6 linked regions of the Homo sapiens genome follow. The protein of the gene in region 2 purifies or fractionates together with the protein of the main gene of each other region. This does not show direct contact. Each region holds a gene or a part of one and is shown on either strand. Other genes may lie near its edges.

Region 1 (3,841 bases), on a different chromosome or scaffold from region 2:
CAACTGTAGATAGAAAATATTTTTTGGAAAAAAAAGTAAAAAAATAACAGTACAACAATTAACACAAATTATAATATGCAGCTCAGCATGGTGGCTCATGCCTGTAATCTCAGAACTTTTGGGAAGCTGTGGTGGGAGGATAGCTTGAGCTCAGGAGTTTTAGACCAGGCTTAGCAATATAACAAGACTCCATCTCTCAAATAGAATAGAATAGAACGGAACGGAACGGAATAGAATAGAATAGAAAAATAAAAATAAAAATATAGCTGGGTATGGTGGCTCACACCTGTAATTCCAGCACTTCAGGAGGCCAAAGCTGGTGGATTTCTTGAGCCCAGGAGTTCAAGACCAGCCTGAGCAGCATAGTGAGATGTCATCTCTATAAAAGCATGGTGGCATGCATCTGTATTCTCAGCTCCTCGGGAGACCGAAGTAGGAGGATTGCGTGGGACCGGGAGGTAAAGGCTGCAGCGAGCTATGATTGCGCCACTGCACCTTAGCCCCTGGGTGACATCCAAACCCTGCATCAAAAATAAATAAAAAATAAAAATATGACAACATTTACATAGCATTTCTATCATACGAAGTATTGTAAGTAATCTAGAGGTGATTTAAAGTATCCTGGAAGATGTGTATATATTATTGCAAATACTAGGCCATTTTATGTAAGGGACTTGAGCATCCTTGGATTTTGGTGTCCCGGCGAGGCTGGGCAGGGGTCTTAGAACCAATTCCCCATGGACACCAAGGGAACTGCTGTGTACAGTAGCGAATAGGACAAATTAAAATTCTGCTGTCATGGAGAAAGAGGAGGTCAATATTTTTGTTAACTTTGTTATAATAAGTGCTAAGCAAAAATTAAAAGCAGAGTCATGTGATACTAAATGACAGTCGTAGCTTAAGATGCCTTGATTTGAGCTTGATGATTGAGAGGCTGTCAGTCAGCTGAAAGTCTTAGAACATTCCAGTTAGAGAGAACCACCAGTACCAAGTGTCTGAGTTAGGACCCTTCTGAGCTGGCATGAAGAACAGAAAGCAGGCCAGTGTGTCTGGAGCAGCGTGGCACCTAGGACCAGATCAAGTGCAGTAGGAAGCAGTAGCAGGATAGGGAGCAGAAACATGATATGATCCAACTTAGGTTTTTTTGCTCTGCTGACCAGTCTGGAGTGCAGGGGCGCAATCTCAGCTCACTACAAGCTCCGCCTCCCGGGTTCACGCCATTTTCCTGCCTCAGCCTCCCAAGTAGCTGGGACTACAGGTGCCCGCCACCACACCCGGCTAATTTTTTTGTATTTTTTTTTTTAGTAGAGACGGGTTTCACCGTGTTAGCCAGGATGGTCTCTATCTCCTGACCTCGTGATCCGCCCATCTCGGCCTCCTAAAGTGCTGGGATTACAGGTGTGAGCCACTGTGCCCGGCCGATCTTTAAGTTTTGGAAGATGGTTCTGGTGCTAGGTGGAGGATGCCTGGGGTTGGTGTGGATAGGAGTGGATGCATATAAAGCTTTTGTAGCTCTCTAGATGCCAGGGCTGGGGCTGGTGGTAGCAGTGGAGATGGAGAAGAGGAGATGGGTTTTGGACAGTTCCTGAGGGCAGAGGTGACAGGACTGGGTTGCTGGACTAGATGGCTTTGTTTTGCGGGCAGGAGAGGGGAGTATTCAAGGGAAATTCCTAGTTTTATGGCTTGAGAAACTTTCTTTGCACTTTAAAAATATTAGTGTTCTCTAGGCAACTATATCCCTGGCCATTTTCACTCTTTTTTTCCCCTGGGTGATGTTATTGATTCTTTCATAGCTTCATTTGTCACCTGTAATAATACTCTTCAAATCCCCAGTCCAGATCTGTCTTCCAGATTTCAAATCCACATTTCCAGCTGTCTGCTGGACATTTTCATCTTTCCAGGATATATTTCCCACATATCCAAAATGGACTTTCCCTTTTTCCTACCAAATCATATGTTCCTTCTAAGTATTTTCCCTAACCCAGTCATCCAGAGTAAAAACCTGGGAATTTTCCACTCCTTTTCCACAATTCCCAGCGTTCAGTTGGTGGTTCTTTCAACCAACATTGAAGTCCTGCTGGAGCCAGGAATCGTGGTAGATGGTGAACCTGTATCGCGGAGCCTAAGTGGGAGCAGATGATACACAGGTCATTGCAAAGCCGAGTTCAGGGCTAAAGCCTGTGAGAATATTGAGGAAGGGGGATGCCTTTTTGGTGAAGTTTGGAAGGCTTTAAAGAATTGACTCTTGGCCAGGCGTGGTGGCTCACGCCTGTAATCCCAGCACTTTGAGAGGCTGAGGTGGGCGGATCACTTGAGATCAGGAGTTCAAGGGCAGCCTGGCCAAAATGGTGAAACCCCGTCTCTGGTAAAAAATACAAAAATTAGCCGGGCACGGTAGCATACACCTGTAATCCCAGTTACTCAGGAGGCTGAGGCAGGATAATCACTTGAACCCAGGAGGTCGAGGTTGTCGTGAGCTGAGATTGTGACATCGTACTACAGCCTGGGTGGCAGAGCGAGACTGTCTCAAAAAAAAAAAAAAAAAAAAAGAATTTACTTTTAAGGTGGATCTTAAGCTTTAGCCAGATGCTTTCCCCAGAGGTGTTCCATGGAACACTAATTTCATGGGCTGTTGAAAGTTACAGTGGAACACATTTGAGGAACACTGGGCTAAACAATTCTTTTTCCCTCTGAGCATCTGCACATATTGGCTAAACAAATGTATTTTATTTTTTAAATTTGTTTTATTGATTTATTTTTTGAGACAGAGTCTCCGTCTGTCGCCAGGCTGGAGTGCAGTGGGGTGATCTCGGCTCACTGCAACCTCCACCTCCTGGGTTCAAGCAATTTTCCCACCTCAGCCTCCCAAGTAGCTGAGGCTAATTTTTTGTATTTTTAGTAGAGACGGGGTTTCACCATGTTTGCCAGATTGGTCTCGAACTCCTGACCTCAGGTGATCCACCCGCCTCGGTCTCCCAAAGTGCCGGGATTACAGGCGTGAGCCACCGCACCTGGCCAACAAACTTAATTTGCTTTATTAAGAACATTTTTGGCCAGGCACGGTGGCTCATGCCTGTAATCCCAGCACTTTGGGAGGCCAAGGCGGGTGGATCATCTGAGGTCAGGAGTTTGAGACCAGTCTGGCCAATATGGTGAAACCTCATCTCTACTAAAAATACAAAAATTAGCCGGACGTGGTGGTACGTGCCTGTAATCCCAGCTACTCAGGAGGCTGAGGCAGGGGAATCCCTAGAACCTGGGCACCGGAGGTTGCAGTGAGCCGAGATCGTGACACTGCACTCCAGCCCAGGCGACAGAGTGAGATTCCATCTCAAAATAAATAATAAAAAAAAAACCAACATTTTTGCCACATTCAGTGTCTGACACCAGTAATCCCAGCATTTTGAGAGGCTGAGGTGGGTGGATCATTTGAAATCAGGAGTTCGAGACCAGCCTGGCCAACATGGTGAAACCCTGTCCCTACTAAAAAAATAAAAATAAATTAGCTGGGCGTGACGGCACACACCTCTAATCCCAGGTACTTGGGAGGCTGAGGCAGGAGGCAGGAGAATCACTTGAACCCAGAAGGCGGAGGTTGCAGTGAGCTGAAATTGTACCACTGCACTCCAGCCCAGGTGACAGAGCAAGATTCCATCTAAAAAGAAAGAACATTTCAAATCTTTAATATGCGGCTATGCATGAAGACATGAGCTCTTATCAGGTGGTATTTAATAGGACTTTGATTTCCTTTAGGGCACTAAGCAAAAGCACTAGTAGTTCTTTGAATTTGGGACTTAAAGGCAAGAAGGTGAGTTAGGTCATGAAAAGCCTTATATTTGAG
Region 2 (3,841 bases):
ACATGTCAGTGTGTTCTGTGTGGCTGCCCCAGGATGGGGCAGGGTGAGGGGATGAAAAGACCAAGGAAGCATGTGCCAGGCTGCTGTTCCAGTGGAGCACCTGGAGCATCCGTGAGCCCCTCTCACTGGCAGAGCGAAAGTGGGGCTGGGGGCTGTCAGGGATGCTTGCAGTGGGATCAGGGCTTGGTCTGCGAGGATTCCCCGGCCTTTCACTTTGAAGGAGGATCTGCTTGGGACAGCAAACAGGCTAGCAGGGGAATGTTCACATCTCACCCACCCACCCACAGACAGCCCAGTTTTCAGTGCACGTGCCCACAGGAGGGTGCGAGTCCTCTAGTTATCTGTTAGAGAGGCACCGCCAGCCTCACCCTCAGCAAGACACCCACCATTGGTGAACCGTCACTCAGTCTCCTTGTCCTTGGAGTCCCAGAGGTGCCTGCCTCCCTCACAACCCTGTGTTTTTGAGGGCTGGTGCCGACCAAGTGGGATGTCTAGGAAAAGGGTCTGGCAGGGTGTGAAGATGCCCCTGGCTGGCCAGGTGCCCACCCAGCCCTGCTCCTCTGACAGCCAAATTCCACCCGCGCTGCAGGGCTTGTGCCAAGGCCCCAGCTGCTCCACACTTCGGACTGGCAGAAGGCGCCTTCGTACCCAGCATCACCCCTGCCCAGGGCCCACTTGGGAGGTGCAGACCCAGTCCTGAGCCGCACGCCCGCCCAATGCTGTCTGTCTGTGTCTGCTCTCTGCCGCCCAGCTTGGGATCTGCACCACGCTGAGGCAGCCGCCCTCCTGCCTCCCGCTCCCCGGAACATGCCCATTCTGCTTCTCCATCCTGCCCTCGCTGTTGTTCGTTGTCTGGGCGGGGAGGTGGAGGGGCCTGGGGGAGCCCAGGCCCAGCTCCCCGTGTCTGTGCTTGTGTCGAAGCCCTCCCCACCTCCTGGGGCTCCACGTGGCCCGAGAGGTCCCCGCCGTCCCCCTGCAGCCTCCCTGATGGGCGGTTTTGGGGGAGAAATTTTTCTTTGTTTCTCTGCCCAGAAACAACGTTCAGCCTCGTACCGGGTGGCCACGTTTCGGGGGTTGTGACTTCCCTGGTTGTGTTGGGTTTCATTTTCTCCAGGCATCATCGCCGTGCCTCCTCACCTCACCTCTCTTCTCTCCCGCTCTCTCCTCCTCCACAGATGCCACACGCTGGCAGCTCTGACCAGCCCCACCCCTCCATACAACAAGGTTTGCACGTACCACACCCCAGCAGCCAGTCAGGGCCTCCATTACATCACAGTGGGGCTCCTCCTCCTCCTCCTTCCCAGCCTCCCCGGCAGCCGCCACAGGCCGCTCCCAGCAGCCATCCACACAGCGACCTGACCTTTAACCCCTCCTCAGCCTTAGAGGGTCAGGCCGGAGCGCAGGGAGCGTCCGACATGCCGGAGCCTTCGCTGGATGTAAGTTGGGGTCGCCACTCGCCTTGGCCTGGGGCTAGGCCTGGCGCCGGGACCTGCCCGAGAGAAGGGGTGGGTGTGAGGGCTCGAGGCCCCGAAGGGAGGAGGTGGGTGGGCGGTGGGAGGGCTTCACCCAGACCTGGCTCCAGACCAGGAAGCCCCATGATGGGGAAGTGTCACCACTGAGGGTCCCCACCCTGCTGGCTCCTGTCCCCCCAGTCCCTTTGGCCATAGCCCTGAACCCCAGCCCTGACCCACCTTCTGACCCAAGCCCTGCGGGGTCCCTTGCGCAGCACAGGAGGGTCCCTGCCCTCCCCCGATGGTGAGCTTGCGGTTTCTGTGTCTGCCTCTCTGGCCCGGGCAGGGAGGGCTGGAGGGAGAGGCCGTCTGTCTGCCTCGCTGGTGTGTGTCTGTCTCCAGTTTTCTTGTCCGCGTGTTGTCCATGCCCTGCTTCTGCTTGCTCCATCGCTCACTCCAAGAGGCCCCCATGTGGGTGACAGAAGGTGGGGGCAGAGGGGGCAGCCTTGGGTCACAGCCAGGGGCAGCAGGCCATCATGGGCAGCAGAGGTGCCAGGGCTCCTACCCTGAGGTCTGGAAGATGGTGGGGGTCACCCTGGATGATGGGGCTGGGCTGCTGGATGGGGCTGGCGGGATGGGACTGAGCACCGGCCCCGCCCATGCCTACACAGAGCTGGTGCCAGACTCCGGGAGGAGGCTTGTCCTCGGCCCCTCCTGTTCTTCACCCCCAGCCCTGCTCTGTCAGCCTCTGCCCTGCAGCATCAGAGGAGCTCTGTGCTAGCTAGGACTCACTCACTGTGCAGCCATCTCAGGTCCTTGCCCAGTGTTCCCCCTCAAACCAGGCCAGTGGGGCTGCTTTTAGATGCATGAGGCTCCCCATGTGACAGACTCCAAGGATATCTCAGTAGAGGGTAGAGACAGTCTGCATCCCCTCCGGGGCCACAGGGAAGGATGGCTGCCAGCCAGCCACAGGCTCACCAAGGAGTGGCGAGCCCTTGAGAAGAGGGATGTTGGGGGGTTGGGGGCGGTGCAGGAACCACTCGCCTTCCCGCCTTCCCACCAGCCCACCTCCTTGTGCTTACACGTGAAGCATGTGATTTCAGCTGGGAGGCCCAAGTGACCTGCCATGGGGCCTTCCCAGGTTAGGGCTGAAGTCCATGCCTGAAAAGGGTCAGCCCTGCTCAGGCCTCAGCTGGTGGGCTGCGGGTCCCAATCCTGAGGCTTGAAATGAGCATGGGGGTGCCCCACACTCGGTGCAGTGGCCGGGGTATGTGTGGGGATACCTGGCAGGCCCAAGCCCAAGGCTGTTCTCTACCCCTTTTTTTGGCTAGGGTCCTGAGAGGCAGGTGGAGGGGGACGGGCCAGGGCGCCCCTGCATTCCTCACCCGGGGCCTGCCTCTCAGGCACACCTCATCTGAACTTCATTACTCCTTCTTTTCCAGCTCCTTCCCGAACTCACAAATCCTGACGAGCTCCTGTCTTATCTGGACCCCCCCGACCTGCCGAGCAATAGTAACGATGACCTCCTGTCTCTATTTGAGAACAACTGAGGGCCACCCGGTCGGGGCCATCCCTCCACACTCTGCATCCTACCCCACCTACCCAACACACTTTTCCACCTGGGAGCCTGTGCCCTCAGACCGCCCCGCACCAGAGCCACGGGCTGTGGGGCGGGGAGCCCTCCCCCGCTGCAGCCCTCTCAGAACAGAGGGGTAGGGAGGGTGCACCAGTGCACCAGGAAGGCTGTGTGGGTCTGGAGCCCACGTCCCACCTCCACACCCTTGGCTTGGGCCCATGCCCAGCGCAGGCCTGAAGACCACCCTCCCGAGAGGAACCAGCCCGGTAAGAGGGCACACGCTGATGCGGCTTCCCGGTCCCTCCGCGTGTGCCGATTCCAGATGACCTTCCAGTGTCCCCAAGGTTCTTCCATCTTCTAGACTGTAACCCTGCCTCCCTGCTTCCTGGTCCAGAGCCTCCCTCCAGTGACTGTGGAGCCTGAGAAGGCCCCCGGGCCCCAGCATGGGCCCCGAGCCTTGGAGGAGCACTGGCAGTTGGTGGCAGTGAGACCAGCCCACCCACCACCACCCACCACAGAAAAGCACAAACCTCTGGGAAAGACAACGTCTCTCGGGGGCCAGGGGTCATCGGTTTGACCCCTGACCTATAAGCCAAGATACCCCATAAACACACTCAGAAAGCAGAGAAAAAGGACAAGAGTCTGTGTTTGAGAGGGGGTCTGCCATTCCTGCTTGGGGACTGGTGGGGAAGAGGGCCAGGACATCTTCTGAGCCAGGACGTCCCTGAGGCTCCACCTCCAAGCTCAGACAGGGCCCAGGCTTGGGGAACAGAGAGAGCAGGTGTACACCCAACCAAAGTGATTGTGCCCTTGG
Region 3 (3,841 bases), on a different chromosome or scaffold from region 2:
AGTGCGACTCTGACTCAAAAATAATAAAATCAATGATGATGGCTAGGTTAATAGATCACAAAAGAACATACATGAAATCAAATCTCACCATGGCAACAACCTCCAGAAACAAGGACTATAGGTAGATTTATCTCTGTGATTAACACAGTGTCTTACCCACAGTAGGTGCTTAATAAATATTTTTTATTCATTGCTCTCTAATCCTATTTTCTTTAGTGCCAGTGACAACGTCTCAGTATAAACATTTCCATCCTTTAATACTGTATTTATTTCCTTAGCAGTTTTCCTTTTCTTCCATTCTATCTTCTGACCCAATGCAATGAAAACTTCTCAAAATATCAGTCAAAACTTCGTTGTTTTTACTTCAACACTGAAATTACAGCCAGTAAGAGTAAGGCTAGGCCTACCTAGAAGAAAATTAGTGATATGTATGTCAGTCTTAAGGTTTTGATATTTTTATTAAAACTGAAAATACACATCTCCAAATGGGGAAAAAAATTATATAGTGTTAATGTTAAGAACAAAGTTGATTCCAACCTCTTGAGACATAAACACAAGCATGAGGATTATGGACAGAAACAAATCCGTATTCCAGGAACAGCCGTTGATTATCGTGAGGGCCGTAACAGATGAATACCTCTTCATGCTTTCTCCAACGTGAAGTCGTTCTAATTTCGTAAGAATGAGTTTCTTCATTAAACGCTGCTTTTACCTAGAAAGAAAAACTGTTAAGGTATTTTTTAAAGTAAGGTGTAAAACTCCAAAGCTGATTAAGTTATTACATAATATTAATGTGAGTCAGGTGCAGCTTTCAAACACCCATCAATAAATGTAACTACGCATAGGGAAAATGCCACTTCCGGTTTCATCCACCTCGACTTCACCCCATTGATGACGGAGGGAGTCCTGCCCTAGGGCTCTGGGGGTGGCCACACCACGACACCCGACACAGCACAGATGAGATCATCAGCAGTTTATTGGTCACGTCCACTCACAGCCCAGGGAAGGAGGACATGGTGGTGCCAATAAACTTTATCTGTAAAAAGCTAGAGAGTAAATACGTTCAGCTTTGCCAGCACTATGTGGTCTCTGTCACAAGTTGTTGTATTTTCACAATCCTTTCAAAGTGTAAAAACCATTCTTAGCTCAGGGCTCTTGGGCCACACGCCCACAGGCTGTAGTTCGTGCTGTGGTCTTCCTACAGTAAACTATAAACTCATTGGTTTGGCACATAAATGCACCAAAAGTCCCAATAAAAATAAATCACTGCTGACGGAGTCCCCATGTCTAGCATCCTATCACACTACACACTCCTGATATTATTTCGTCAACATCAACCACAGAAACACTCACCTAATCCCAGGCTCCTTTGCTCCCGATTATTAAAGATACTTCTTTCTACAAAAGTAACAAGCAGACAGCCCTTGTTCCTGGGCTAAGAAAGCAGAGCGGGAACCTCCCTAAGCTCTGATCTCACGTAGAGAGCACGAAAGCTTAGCACGTGGGCTCACAAGGCATGGCTGCTCTTCTCCAGTGGAATGTCAGATGAAGGCGACGGCCAGGACACAGATCCCAGCCATGTCCCTCCACAACACACCCCAAAGTGGTTACAGGTGAGCCAACTGATGGACTCTCTTCCGCTCTCCAAGCCAGGCCTCTACCCCTGCATGCCCTGCAAATACACTCATTTCCTAAATGAGCCACCTGGGGAAAGCGCTGGGGAGGAGGCGATCTGTGACCACCTCCCAAATCAGGTTTCTTTCATTATTTCCCAGAACCCTTTCCCCACAAATACCCATCCATTCAATAAACATTTACTGAACACCTACTATGTGCCAGGCCCTGCCATGAGCACTGAGGTGACAAAGAGGAACAAGACAAAGACCCCATTCTCAAAGATTTCAGAGCTCAGTGGGAAAAAGAGCAAGTCAGTCAGCGATCAGAGCGAAGAGAAATGCTGTGACAGCTACAACACCAGTTTAAAAGGGACGGGGCAGGAAAGCAAGCTAAGCTTCAGTCCCGGAAGGAGGAACGAGGGAGAAGGAAGGAAGGCTCCGCACCACAGGCTGCTGGGAAAGACCGGACAGAGGATGCAGCACGAGGCTCTGTAGGCCTGAAGAGCAGAGTGAAGAAAAGGGGCCAAGGCAAGCACTGCGGGAGGGATAGTGGGGTCTAGAAGAACAACAGGAGCCTCCTGACGTCAGGCCAACCTGACAGGGTCACCTGAAGCCGCCGACACCTCTCCCTGTGGTGCCACCCACATCTACAGCCACAGGTTCTGGGCAGCGGAAGCCTTCCTATCCAAATAGAATAGCTGCTCCCTTGTCAGCTTCTCACCTGGACATGTGGGCTATGATTCAGCAGGTCCAGGTACGGAGCGAGTGCACAGGTGTCCGGCTCTGCAGAAAGGCATTCCCGCTGCCTGGGCCTCAGGTACACGGCTCTGGTGTTGACGGTGCACCAAGCCCACAGCAGGGCACTGTAGCTGAAGATGCTGTCAACAGCCTCCGCAAACAGAGGCTGCAGAGAAGAGAAAAAGTCTCTGGAGGAAGCAAAGAACTCCTGCACGTGGGCTCTCTGCTCTTCAGCCTTTGCTTTTAAAGATTTGGGAAGAAGGTTCACCACTTCCGGCTCCAAACAAACAGGGCAGGTATACGCCTTGGGTAAAATCTCCAGGTAAGGCTTCCAAAGAGATCGGTGCCCAGCATGCTTTTCTGAAACTAAAAAGGTGCACAGCGCCAGCAGAGGAGATGGAGGAGGCTTCCACCTTTGAAAATTAAAAGCCAGTTTAAAGGAATTACTTTGATTCAAAATACGAAATAAGCCAAGCAGTTTGTTTTGCTGCCAGAAGGAGTGTGTTCAAACTGTCAACACACTCAGTTTACTTAACAGACTCAAGAGTTCCTTCCTTCCTTCCTTAAGGCTCTTCCTCTCCAGGGGAGCACAGCCCCAGTGCTAGTGCTCTGAAAGAGCCATACTTACATGTCAGAAAAACTGACTCACTAAGCCAAGTTCCAGGTTTGTTTGCAAGAGATTCCTCTTTGCAAAAAAACCTCTTTGCTTCCAACTTGGTTCTCCAGTTGTAAACCTTTTGACCTAAGTCCATTTGTCTCACCTATGTAAAGATATAAAATATGGTGGGGAAAAAATGGTGGAAAGAACTGAGACCTGCACCATCCGATATAGTAATCACTGGGTACACAGAGCTATTTAAATTTAACCTTTAATTATTTAGAATTGAATATTTAAAATTCAATCCCTTGGTAAGATAAGCTATGTTTTAATTGCACAATAGCCATTCAGAGCTAGTGGCCACCATACTGGACAATGCATAAAAAACATCTGTCATTGCTAAAAGCTCTATTGGAGGGCACCAACCTAAACCAAAACTGAATATGCTCATATACAGTTGTTGCAGTTCTAAAGCTTTTATTCCTAAGTTTACCTGCTCTATTACAAATTATGTATCACAGTATTTTTACTTGCACAATTGCCGATAAAAAGATCTCATGTTGCCTGAATGTATTTAGAAAGTTTTCATCAATCCTTCGACATCCAGATTCCTATACTGCCATACATTCTACTCAAAATTTCAGAATGATTCAGAAAATGTTAACAATGACAGCATCATTGTCTCTACACAGGCCTAAAAGACCTATTCACTCTCTTCCAAAAACATGCCAGGGGGAAAAAAGACCAGCACTTACCTAATGGTTAAGAGACAGTATACGCCAGGCACAGTGGCCGTTTGCCTATATCCCAGCACTTTGGGAAGCCAAAGTGGGTGGATCACTTGAGGCCAGGAGTTTGAGACCAGCCTGACCAACATGGAGAAACCCCA
Region 4 (3,841 bases), about 48 Mb from region 2:
TTGCCTACCCAAATGTCCTGAGTGTTTTCTGTATGTTTTCTTCTAGTTTTATGGTGTTGTGTCTTATGTTTAAGTCTTTCATTGATCTTGAGTTGATTTTTGTATGTGGTGAGAAATAGGAGTCCAGTTTCATTCTTCACATGTTAATATTCAGTTTTCCCAGCACCATTTATTGGAGAGTGTGTCCTTTTCCTGGTGTATGTTTTTGGTGCCTTGTCGAAATCAAATGGCTGTTAATAATGTGGATTTTATTCTGGGTTCTCTGTTCTCTTCCACTGGTCTGTGTGTCTGTTTTTTACTAATGCCATGCTGTTTTCCTTACTGTACCTTGTATTATATTTTGAAGTCAGGTAGTGCGATGTCTCCAGCTTTGTTCTTTTTGCTCAGGATTGCTTTGGCTATATTGGTCTTTTGTGGTTCCGTAAAAGTTTTAGGATTGTTTTTTCTGCTTCTGTGAAAAATGACATAGATATTTTGATAGGGATTGGATTGAATCTGTAGATCGCTCTGGGCAATATGATCATTTTAATGATGTTAATTCTTCTGATCCATGAGCATGGGATGTCTTTCCATTTACTTGTGTCTTCTTCAATTTCTTTCATCAATATTTTGTAGTTTTCCTTGGAGAGGTCTTTCACCTTCTTGGGTAAATTTATCCCTAGGTATTTTACTTTTTTGTAGCTACTATAAATGAGATGGTCTTCTTGATTTATTTCTCGTCTAGTTCATTATTGGTGTACAGAAACACTGCTGATTTTTATGTTGAGTTTTGTATCCTGCAACTTTCAGTTTATTTAGCAGATTGCAGTTTTTTGGTTGTGTCTTTAGGTTTTTCTAGATATTAGATCATATAGTCTGCAAAGAGAGACTATTTGACTTCTTTTCCAAATTGGATGGCTTTTATTTCTTTCTCTTGCCCAATTGCTCTGGCTAGGACTTTCCAATACTGTGTTGAATAGGAGTGGTGAAGGAGTGGAAATCCTTTTCTGATTACACTTCTTAGAGGGACGTCTGTCAGCTTGTTCCATGCAGTATGCTGTGGTTCTGTCATATATGTCCTTTATTATATGGAGGTGAACCATCTTTGCATCCCTGGGATAAATCCCACTTGATCATATTGCATTATCTTTTTGACGTGCTGTTAGATTTAGTTTGTGAATATTTTTTTGAGGATTTTGTATCTGTTGTCATCAGGGATATTGACCTGGATAGTTTTCCTTTTTTTGTTTCATCTTTCTCTGGTTTTGGTATCAAGATAGTGATGGACTTATAGAATGAAGTAGGGAGAATTCCCTCCTCTTCAGTTTTTTGGAATAGTTTGAGGAGAACTAGTGTTAGCTCTTCTTTGACAGTTTGGTAGAATTCAGCAGTGAACCCTTTCAGTCCCGGACTTGAAATATTCATTATGGATTCAATCTCATTACTCATTATTGGTCTGTTCAGGTTTTCTATTTCTTTCTAATTTAATCTTGGTAGGCTGTGTCCAGGAATTTATCCATATCCTCTAGGTTTTTCAGTTTTTTCATGTATAGTTGTTCATAATTGTCTCTTTTGTATTTCTGTGGTATCATTTGTTAGTCTTCTTTTTCATTTTTTATTTGCATCTTCTCTGTTCTTTTCTTAGTCTAGCTAGTGGTTTATCAGTTTTGTTACCTTTTCAAAAAAACCAACTTTTTGTTTTGTTATTTGTGTTGTTTTTTAGTCTTCATTTCATTGATTTTGTTCTGATTGTTATTATTTCTTTCCTTCTTAAATCCTAATTTAGGGTTTGCTTTGTTCTTGCTTTTCTAAGTTCTTGAGGCACATTGTTAGATTATTTGAAATGTTTCTATTTTTTGTTTTAGGTATTTATTGCTATATACTTCCTCTTAGTGCTTTTGCTATATTTCATAGGTTTTGATATGTTCTGTTTTGATTTTCATTTAAAGAAATTTTAATTTTAATTTCATTTAAAGAAATTTTAAATTTTCCTCCTTATTTCTTCCTTGACCCCGTGGTTATTCAAAAGCATGTTGTTTAATTTTCATGTGTGTGTAGAGTTTCCAAAGTTCCTCTTATTATTAAAATCTATAGTTGTATTACTTTGTGGTCTAAAAGCTACTTGATATGATTTTGATTTTTAAAAATTTGTTTGAGACTTGTCATGGGTCCCAACATACAGTCTATCCTAGAGTATGTTCTGTGTGTTGATGACAAGAATATGTATCCTTTAGTAGTTGGTTAAAATGTTCTGTAAGTGTCTCACATCCATTCGGTATAAAATGCAGTTTAAATTCAGTGTTTCTTTGTTAAGTGTCTTTCTACATGATCTGTCTAATGCTGATAGGGGTGTTGAAGTCCCTAACTATTATTGTATTAGAATCTGTCTCTCCCTTTAGATCTAATAATATTTCCTTTATATAGCCAGGTACTCCAGTCTTGGGTACATATATGTTAAGAATTGTTATATCCTCTTACTGAATTGATTCCTTTGTCATTCTTTAATGACCTTCTTTGTCCCCTTATACTGTTTTGTTTACTGGATTTAAGAGTTTATCTCATTATAGCTACTCCTGCTCACTATGGTTTCCATTTGCATGGACATCTTTTTCTGTCCCTTTACTTTCAGTCTATATGGATCTTTACAGGTGAGATGAATTTCTTCTAGGCAGCACATAGCTGGGTCACAGTTTTTATCCATTCAGCCAATCTGTACCTTTTAAGTGGAAAGTTTAATCCGTTTATGTTATTATTATTGATATGTTAGAGCCTATTTCTGTCATTTTGATTTCTGGTTGTTTTGTGTATCATTTGTTCCTTTCTTTCTTACTGATTATTATTGTGGTTTGATAGTTTTCTATAGTGGTAACATTTGAGTTCTTTCTCTTTCTTATTTGTACTTGTTCTACCAGTGGATTTTATATTTTCATGTGTTTTCATTATGGTAGATATCTTCCTGTCACTTCCATGGATAAGACTCCCTTAAACATTTCTTGTAGGGCCAGTCTAGTGGTCATGAATTCTCTCAGCTTTTACTTGTTTAGGAAAGACTTTATTTCTCTTTCATTTATGAAGGATAATTTTGCTGGGTATGATATTCTTGGCTGGCAGGGTTTTTTTCTTTCAATACTTTGAATAAATATATCATTTCTTTCTCTCCTTGCCTATAAAGTTTCTGCTGATAAACTGCTATTAGTCGTATGGAGGTTCCCTTACAAGTGATTGGACACTTTTCTCGTGTTGTTTTTAGAATATCTCTTTGTCTTTTACTTTTGACAGTGAATATAATGTGCCATGGAGAAGATCTTTTTGAATTGTATCTATTTGGGGGTGCGCTGAGCTTTCTGTATCTGGATGTCTAAATCCTTTGCTAGACTTGGGAAATTTTTGGATATTATTTCATTAAATAGGTTTTCTATCCCTTTTGTTTCCTCTTTGCCTTATAACACATCAAAAATTCGAATATTTGGTTACTTTATAGTTTCTTATATGTCACACAGGCTTTGTTCATTGTTCTTTTATTCTTTTTTCTCTTACTAGGTTATTTTAAAAGACCTGTCTTCAAGTTCTAAAATTCTTCTTCTGCTTGACCTAATCTATTGCTGAAGCTTTCAGTTGTCTTTTGTCTTTCATTCGGTGAATTCTTCAATTCCAGAATTTGTTTAGTTCTTTTTTATGATACTTACCTCTTTGGTAAATTTCTCATTCATATCCTGATTTGTTTTTCTGGTTCCTTTGTGTTGCTTTTCTGTTTTCTTCTATCTCACTTAGCTTTTATAAGATCATTATTTTTAATCATTTTCCAGGATTTCATAAATTTATTTTGATTGGAATCTGTTGCTGGATAATTATTGTATTTTTT
Region 5 (3,841 bases), on a different chromosome or scaffold from region 2:
GAGTCACCTTACCAGTGTCCTGCTTCTTGTCTGGGCCTGAACTTGAAACCTGAGGGCAATGGGAAAAATACAAAACAAAAACCAGACATCTGTTAGAGGAAATGGAGAACGTAAAATCTATGGCCTAAAGACTGCAATATATTTTTGAGAAATTTTGAAATTGATTAGTTTGGGGGTTGGGGATTGATCCTGCTAACCTGGGATGTACTCAAGCCTTTGGCTATAGTGTGGTCGACATACACGCAGCACGAATGCATTGAGAATGAATGCTGAATGCCTTCTGAGCCCTTAGAGATTACTCATGGATTCTCTTTCCAAGATACTAAATCCCATTTTGCAGCTACTGAAATAATAACCTTAGTCATATTTTTTTGATCTCATCTTTAGACAAGGCCACAGTCAGGACAGACTCAGATACCAACCCAGTTAATGAGTATGCAGATTTCTTAGAAAAGGGGTTGAGATCATTGTGGTCTTTGCATCCAAGATCCTTTTAGGCCAAGCATGACTTGAATATTGACCTCTTTGTTCCTTCCCTATCTGTTCATTACAGAGGATGTGAAACCATATCAAGTTAATGGAGTCAACCCAGCCTATCCAGAATCCCGCTATACCTCGGATTACTTCATTAGTAAGTTCATTTCTACCCCTCTTCTCTCATGATAATAGCAAACTAGGAAAAGACCCCTATCTCAGTGAATCTCAGGCTCCTTCATGGTAATTCTATCAAAAATAATATCTTCTTAGATGTAGACTCTTCTTTGTTACTTTATTTTATTATTTTCCACAAAGCACAAAGTTTCAACCTATATATATGTTTCATTAACCTACCAAGTTCCTACACACTAGGATCCTTCTCTGATGTCTTCACCTGAAAGTCATGCAGAGAGACTGCAACTAGACCCCTAAACTTTTGTTCCTATTTGATACTGTGCACTACGATGGCCAAAAGAGGGTTGGGTTAGGGATTTGATCTTGGTCTTTGTTCTTTCCTTTTTACTAGTGGAGATAACAGCATTTCCTCCAAAATCCTTCTTTAAGAGTGTGCTATGCAGCTTCAAATTCTATTATAGGAAATACAGTCTTCTCCTTTTTCGTGTAAGATACCCAACCATACTGAAGAGATGGCCTGAGGGAAACAATGAATGTAGGCCTGTTGCACTAATGTAAGCTCTGAGATATAGGACCATCTTATCTGATGGCTGTGCTTTTACAGGGAATATGAAACAGGTTTTATTTTTTTCGTTTTATCTTTTTACGTTATTACAATTTTTATTCCAGTGACACAATGATATTAACTACTCTGTGTCAAGAGCTTATTGTGTGGGGAATGTTGGTGGGCATTTGACCTCTATCCTCATTTCATCTTCATCACAGTGCTCCGGGAAAAATCGCAATCACCCCCATTTTAGAGATGAGGATATGAAGTCAGGAAATCAATTACCTTGTCAAGGGCTAAAGCTGTTTAGTAGTGGACAAGGTTAAAAATGCAAGCTTTTCTGATTTAAAGTATTTTCCCTTATTCTCTAAGGAGCTTGTCCCACATCATAGGGCCCTGTAGATGGTGAAAACTGCTTATTTTAGGTACAAATCTCTCCTCTCTTTACTTGCAAACCCTTTGTTTCCAGGCTATGGTATTGAGCATGCCCAGTGTGTTCCACCATCGGAGTTCTCAGAGCCCAGCTTCATCACAGAGTCCTATCAGACGCTCCATCCCATCAGCTCGGAAGAGCTCCTCTCCCTCAAGTATGAGAATGACTACCCCTCGGTCATTCTCCGAGACCCTCTCCAGACAGACACCTTGCAGAATGACTACTTTGCTATCAAACAAGAAGTCGTCACCCCAGACAACATGTGCATGGGGAGGACCAGTCGTGGTAGGTCATATTTCTTCTCTAAAAGCTCTTGGGTTTACAAGAATTACCTGACTTTGTGAGTTTTTTTCAGGTTCCATTTTTTTTTTCTTATTTATTAGACCTGTAGATTCCTCAGTTTCAGCCTTCCCATCTTAGAGTGTCCAGATACTAAGAACTTTCCATCGTGGTGTTTTAGCCAAGTCCATTATTATGACAAAGGCCATGGGGTCCACAGTGAAATCAAAATCAGGCAATCTAAGAAATTAAATATCTTACTTGGGCAAAATGTTTTACTCAATAACTCTAGTTGAATTTGGTCATTTTGAAAGGTATGCTCTATTTTCCTTGAGGAGGACATAATCAAGTAAAAATGGTTCAAGTGGCCACCCTGGAAAACCCTTAAGCTTAGCATGTGTCCTGGTGCTCCTCCCAGAGGACTCCTGGGTCTGACTGTAGATCCTAGCTGGGTACCTGGAATGACCTCTGCTGGCCAGCCTGGGATCTTTAGCCTCCTGTGACTTTTTCGGTTTGGGAAGATACAAGATGGTTAACCAACGGTTTATTTGGAACCAGTCATCAGCAGTGTGGTGAAGTGTGTATTTAGCTAGAGGACCAGGGACGGAGGTGGCCAGGGGTTTCCAAAAGAAGGTAGTTTTGTTAACGTGACTATTATAATAGTGATAAAATATTCACTGTCAGGGAAGAAAGTGTTTAAAAATAGAGCTGGGTGACATAAAGCAAAAAAGGTAAAATGCACCCAATTTTTAGGAACAGGACATAAACACTCAGAGGTACAGCCTACCTAGTAAAGTGTCCAGATTGTTTTGTTTCTGAGAAAAATGCAATCTATTGTAAGAAAGGGTTTGTCTATTTAGCAAGAGCTAGATGATTTCTAAAAAGGTGAAAAACCTGACTTTTCTGGTGGGTAAATGGGAAAGAATTATAAATGGGAAGAGGAACAGGAGAAAGCTGATCAAGCGGGGCTTGGGTCAGATGTCAGGCTGGGGCTGGCCTATTAGTGATTTCTGCTCAATGACTGACCATATGCGGTGCCTATTGTGAGGCTCTTGGAGGAGAGCCCAATGGTACCTTTACTTTGAAGAATCATGGGTCATGCCCATTGTCGTCTTCTTCGAGTATTCAGACTCACACTTCCTCCTAGCAGGCCTAGGGATCACCAACAAGCCCTGCAGAGGGAAAGTCCCTGCAAAATCAGAACCCCTAATCTTCCTTCTTAAGGCCCCAGGGTGTTAGTGTTTCAGACCGAAGGGGATGGGTGGGACCAGTCGGCCTTCCCCTTTCTGGCTCTTTTTTATTTTTGGGTGCATGTCTATTTAAATACATACACACAAGTGTGTGTACATGTGTTTCTTTTTTATCAGGCGAGTCAAAGCATTAAAACGACTTTCTTCCTTGTGGGACTTTCTGTACATCTACACAGTGAGGCCAAGCCTGTGGGTTTGGGCTCAGCCATGTTGTAACTTTGGGTCGATCTCCTGTCACATTGTTTTGAAATTGCATCTGGCTTTGCATTTGTGTAATTGTCTCTTTCCCTCTCCTTTTCTTCATTCTTGGTTTTGGTCCCTACCACCCCTCCAACCCCAAACTAATGACTGTGGACCAAAAGTGACCCTTACAAGGAGACATGAGGTATTTCTTTCTGGCTCCACTCTTCTTCCCTCCCTCCAAGTTCAGGCCACAGAAACTTGAGGGGAAGACCATTTTGTGCAGGGCTGTTTTCTGCATGTTAGAAGTGCTGCAAACAGGGCCTATGCAAAGGGCCAATTGATTCTGAGATGCTGTGATTGGTCTAGACCGAAAGCATTACTGTTAGCTGATTGTTATTTATACTAACCATAGTACAGTATTCACGGGCTGCATTACAGCGTACAGAGTGCTTCTATGCCCCACTTATTTGGGCCCTAAGGACTGTCTTTGTACGAGTCTACTCAGTGGGTGGCTGGGTGCTGCCGCATCTTCTGTTT
Region 6 (3,205 bases), on a different chromosome or scaffold from region 2:
TTTATTATCTTTACTTTTTTGGGGGGTTGGAGGGGGTAGCCTAGCCAGAACATCATTGTAATCTTAAAACATAAGATGCTTTTATTAGATGATCAACTAAAATAGCTGGAAGACAGTACTTTAGAAACAGATAGTTGTAAGATTATAAAATGCAAATGTAACTTATGTTTTCATTTTTTTCTCTGCCTTTTTTGTTTGTTTGTTTTCTCTTTTCCAGTACTGAGCATCTCCACAAATGTCTCCTAACTCAGAAAATGTTTCTTTTCTTTTCAGTTGAGATTTGGTTGCATTCAGGGTTGTAGGTTGGCCTTGCTTGCTAACCCCGCCGGTTTTACCGTGCTTTCATTCCTGAACTTTGTTTATGCCTTTGTTTGGTTTCTTCGAAATTGCAGCAGACTCATTGGGCTACATTTAGTACAGGAACCACGTGTGTAATGTTATACAACACAGTCTAGTAATACAATCATCCCTCTTAGAGTAAAAACTACCTCTAGATTGTGGTAAGCTTTTACTGTCCCATAAAACAGGAGCCACAGTACCTTATGAATGCAAAACTGTAACTTCCTACAGTGTTTCCCTACAGAACATTGTCTTTCTGGTGTCCTGGGCTGTTTTGAAAAAGTTTCCATTAATAGACTTTTTAGAAATTATTATTAGTAGCATTTTTTTTCCAGCTTTGCTGTCTTCATCACTCACTCTATGCTCAGACTATGCCACTGTAAATATTCTTCCTAACATCTTTAAATCGCCTTTTCCTCAGTTTTCAAGGGGAAGGTCATTTGTAAAGCACGTTAGGTGGTTAAATCAGTTATTGCGGTTTTCTCTTACTGCAAGCCTTTTTAATCACCCCCAGGCTGCATTTTATTCTATATCGCCTTTTTTCTTCAAATCTGCTCCAATCACTCACTTCTCTCTTATAAGCTAATCCTGCCTCACACCTTAAATCTGTTTCAGTGATCAAGGGCAGAACTCATTGTGGCCTTATCTTTCTTTGTTGTAATTGTTCACTGTCTCTTTCTTACAGACCACTTATTTCTGAGTAGTAGTTATTCCTCTCTATGGAGTCATGGCAGGAATCATTACACAGTGCTTTTGTTCAGAGCATGGACATGTTCCTAGTGCTGCTTTGCTTTAACGGCCACAAGTTTCCTCCACTTCCTAGGTTTGGTATTTAGTTAAGGAATCATATTAAATTAACCAATAACAAAAGAGATACTTTTGAAGAACAAACTATTCCTTACCCATTTTTGTAGCTCAAAAATAATTTTTCAAGTTCATGACCTTATTAAAATGAACTTGTGTTTTTTTAACAAACATGTATGTTTTATTTTGATAGTTTCTTTCCGTAAGATAATTGAAATATTATACTGTAAACCCTTTTCTTTTCTTTTTTTGAAAAGTCCAAGAATGTACTTATACAGGCATTTTTCCCCACCTATTTTTGGCCATTCTCATACCACAGACTAAAGAGTGAAATGATTTGTCCATTGTAGCTTATTGTTTATCAGTAGTTCTTTTGTCAGCTGCTTACATTTTTTCTTTCATGGTTTTGTGAATCATTTTCAGTATGTAATTTATAGGAACCTTGTCCTCTGGTTATAGTAGACTGTGTGCCCTCCTCCAGTGATGGCATTATTAGACATGCTGGTCATTTACCCTCAGAAAGACTCTCTTATTAGAATGGTGAGTGCTTCAGTTATAGTATGTTTGAATTTTTAAAAAATTCTGTTTTAGAAATGTATCTTATGCTCTCATGACTATGCAGTTTCTAAACATACACATAGAAGCTGAGTCTCTGATCCAATATGTTTTTATTTGTTCCATTTAATTTATCACATAGATTGGGAAGGCAAGCTAAAAGCCTTAAAAATGCCCTTTATATTTTGAGTGATTTCAGCGTTGAACACTAGTATACTATCTAAATTTGCTGCTCACTTTCTTTAAACTGTGGCAATTAAAGGCATGTTTATACATGACTTAATCGTGAAATGTTTGTCACTCTTACTGCACAGACTTATCTGCAATCATAACTGGTTAGTTTTTTTGTTTTGTTTTGTTTTATTGTTTTTAATGAAACTGGTACCATCTGTGCTTTCACAAAAAACTTCCAATGCCATTTTTGAGAACTAACCTAACTAGTCATGCTAACCAGAAAATCCACTGGGGAGGAGGTTCCTTTTGAAACAAAATGCTGTTCAGTTAGTAACCAAGTTACTTTGATTGCAAAAGCAGCTGTGTTTCTGATAAGTACTGAACAAATGTGTGTAATTTTCTGTGCCAGACTTATGACTTTGTTTTCAAGCACTGTAATGTGGGATGGATGGTTAGAAACAATAATATATTAGGGTTTCTGTTTAACCCTTTCAGGACTGAACTGTATCTCCTTTTGTTAATTTTCCCCTGTGTTGTGATAAATGTTTGCCAGCATTCAGTACTGTGTTGGTCCAGATGTAGGTTTATATGCTCATTTTTAGCTTATTTCTTGTACCTTGCAGCATGCTCTACGCATTCAGTCCTTAAGGGGTTTATTTTACAAACTGTGCGCCTGTAAGGTTTATTAGCAATAAGATAGAAAATTGAGCAAGTTTATACCATAATTTTGTAGAAAAAAAGAATCTGCTCAGTTCCATATTTCATCCGTGAAAAACTTGCAATACGAGCAGTTTCAAGGAATAAATAAAAAGGAAATGTAAACCATTGTAAAAGTCTTCTGTCGAATGTGCCTGATGCATGTATTATCGTCTTTTATTTCAGAATACTTCATAAAGATAAAATTAAATTCTATATTATAGTTGGTGTATTTACAATCTTACCATGTACATCACATCAAAGTGATAGCTCTACTAATTTAATTTCCTTGTCAATGTTTTTAACTATATAGTGCTTTAAAGAGATTTTTTTTCCCTGTGTAAATGGTGAAATGGGCTTTGTCACTCAAGGGTCATATCTCTCAAATCAGAATCATTTAAAGCTGATTGCAACAAAATTTGAGAATATTACTTAGCAATAACTTACTTTTCCAATATAAGATGGTCATTTTGTCTGCTATAGGAAGGAACACATAATCGTTTGCCTTTGAGGGGTGGGGGTGGGTCCTAGAAGTGGGGATAGTATTCTTTAATATGAAACAAAGTTAAATGGGGAAGTTACATAAGTTTTTTTTTTTGAGACGGGGTCTTGCTCTGTCGCCCCTGAGCTGGAGTGC

The links.
Region 1: the proteins of ZMIZ1 (region 2) and MAML1 purify together in Homo sapiens (affinity purification with mass spectrometry, with the first as the bait; one study listed by BioGRID). This does not show direct contact.
Region 3: the proteins of ZMIZ1 (region 2) and SETD4 fractionate together in Homo sapiens (co-fractionation; one large-scale study listed by BioGRID). This does not show direct contact.
Region 4: the proteins of ZMIZ1 (region 2) and ZEB1 purify together in Homo sapiens (affinity purification with mass spectrometry, with the first as the bait; one study listed by BioGRID). This does not show direct contact.
Region 5: the proteins of ZMIZ1 (region 2) and ETS1 purify together in Homo sapiens (affinity purification with western blotting, with the first as the bait; one study listed by BioGRID). This does not show direct contact.
Region 6: the proteins of ZMIZ1 (region 2) and RBPJ purify together in Homo sapiens (affinity purification with western blotting; one study listed by BioGRID). This does not show direct contact.

Annotation. Positions count from the first base shown.
Region 1 is NC_000005.10:179,739,156-179,742,996, forward strand, and holds part of MAML1 (mastermind-like protein 1), read left to right. Parts: intron 1-3,841. UniProt on the Homo sapiens protein: Acts as a transcriptional coactivator for NOTCH proteins. Has been shown to amplify NOTCH-induced transcription of HES1. Enhances phosphorylation and proteolytic turnover of the NOTCH intracellular domain in the nucleus through interaction with CDK8.
Region 2 is NC_000010.11:79,309,749-79,313,589, forward strand, and holds part of ZMIZ1 (zinc finger MIZ domain-containing protein 1), read left to right. Parts: intron 1-1,175; coding exon 1,176-1,436; intron 1,437-2,893; coding exon 2,894-3,001; 3' UTR 3,002-3,841. UniProt on the Homo sapiens protein: Acts as a transcriptional coactivator. Increases ligand-dependent transcriptional activity of AR and promotes AR sumoylation. The stimulation of AR activity is dependent upon sumoylation.
Region 3 is NC_000021.9:36,043,245-36,047,085, forward strand, and holds part of SETD4 (SET domain-containing protein 4), read right to left. Parts: intron 2,768-3,841; coding exon 2,338-2,767; intron 726-2,337; coding exon of another isoform or gene 713-725; coding exon 538-712; coding exon of another isoform or gene 515-537; exon of another isoform or gene 440-514; intron 408-439; coding exon of another isoform or gene 343-407; exon of another isoform or gene 1-342. UniProt on the Homo sapiens protein: Protein-lysine N-methyltransferase that methylates both histones and non-histone proteins. Via its catalytic activity, regulates many processes, including cell proliferation, cell differentiation, inflammatory response and apoptosis.
Region 4 is NC_000010.11:31,504,032-31,507,872, forward strand, and holds part of ZEB1 (zinc finger E-box-binding homeobox 1), read left to right. Parts: intron 1-3,841. UniProt on the Homo sapiens protein: Acts as a transcriptional repressor. Inhibits interleukin-2 (IL-2) gene expression. Enhances or represses the promoter activity of the ATP1A1 gene depending on the quantity of cDNA and on the cell type.
Region 5 is NC_000011.10:128,482,859-128,486,699, reverse strand, and holds part of ETS1 (protein C-ets-1), read left to right. Parts: intron 1-553; coding exon 554-631; intron 632-1,628; coding exon 1,629-1,877; intron 1,878-3,841. UniProt on the Homo sapiens protein: Transcription factor. Directly controls the expression of cytokine and chemokine genes in a wide variety of different cellular contexts. May control the differentiation, survival and proliferation of lymphoid cells.
Region 6 is NC_000004.12:26,432,219-26,435,423, forward strand, and holds the end of RBPJ (recombining binding protein suppressor of hairless), read left to right. Parts: 3' UTR 1-2,705; downstream 2,706-3,205. UniProt on the Homo sapiens protein: Transcriptional regulator that plays a central role in Notch signaling, a signaling pathway involved in cell-cell communication that regulates a broad spectrum of cell-fate determinations.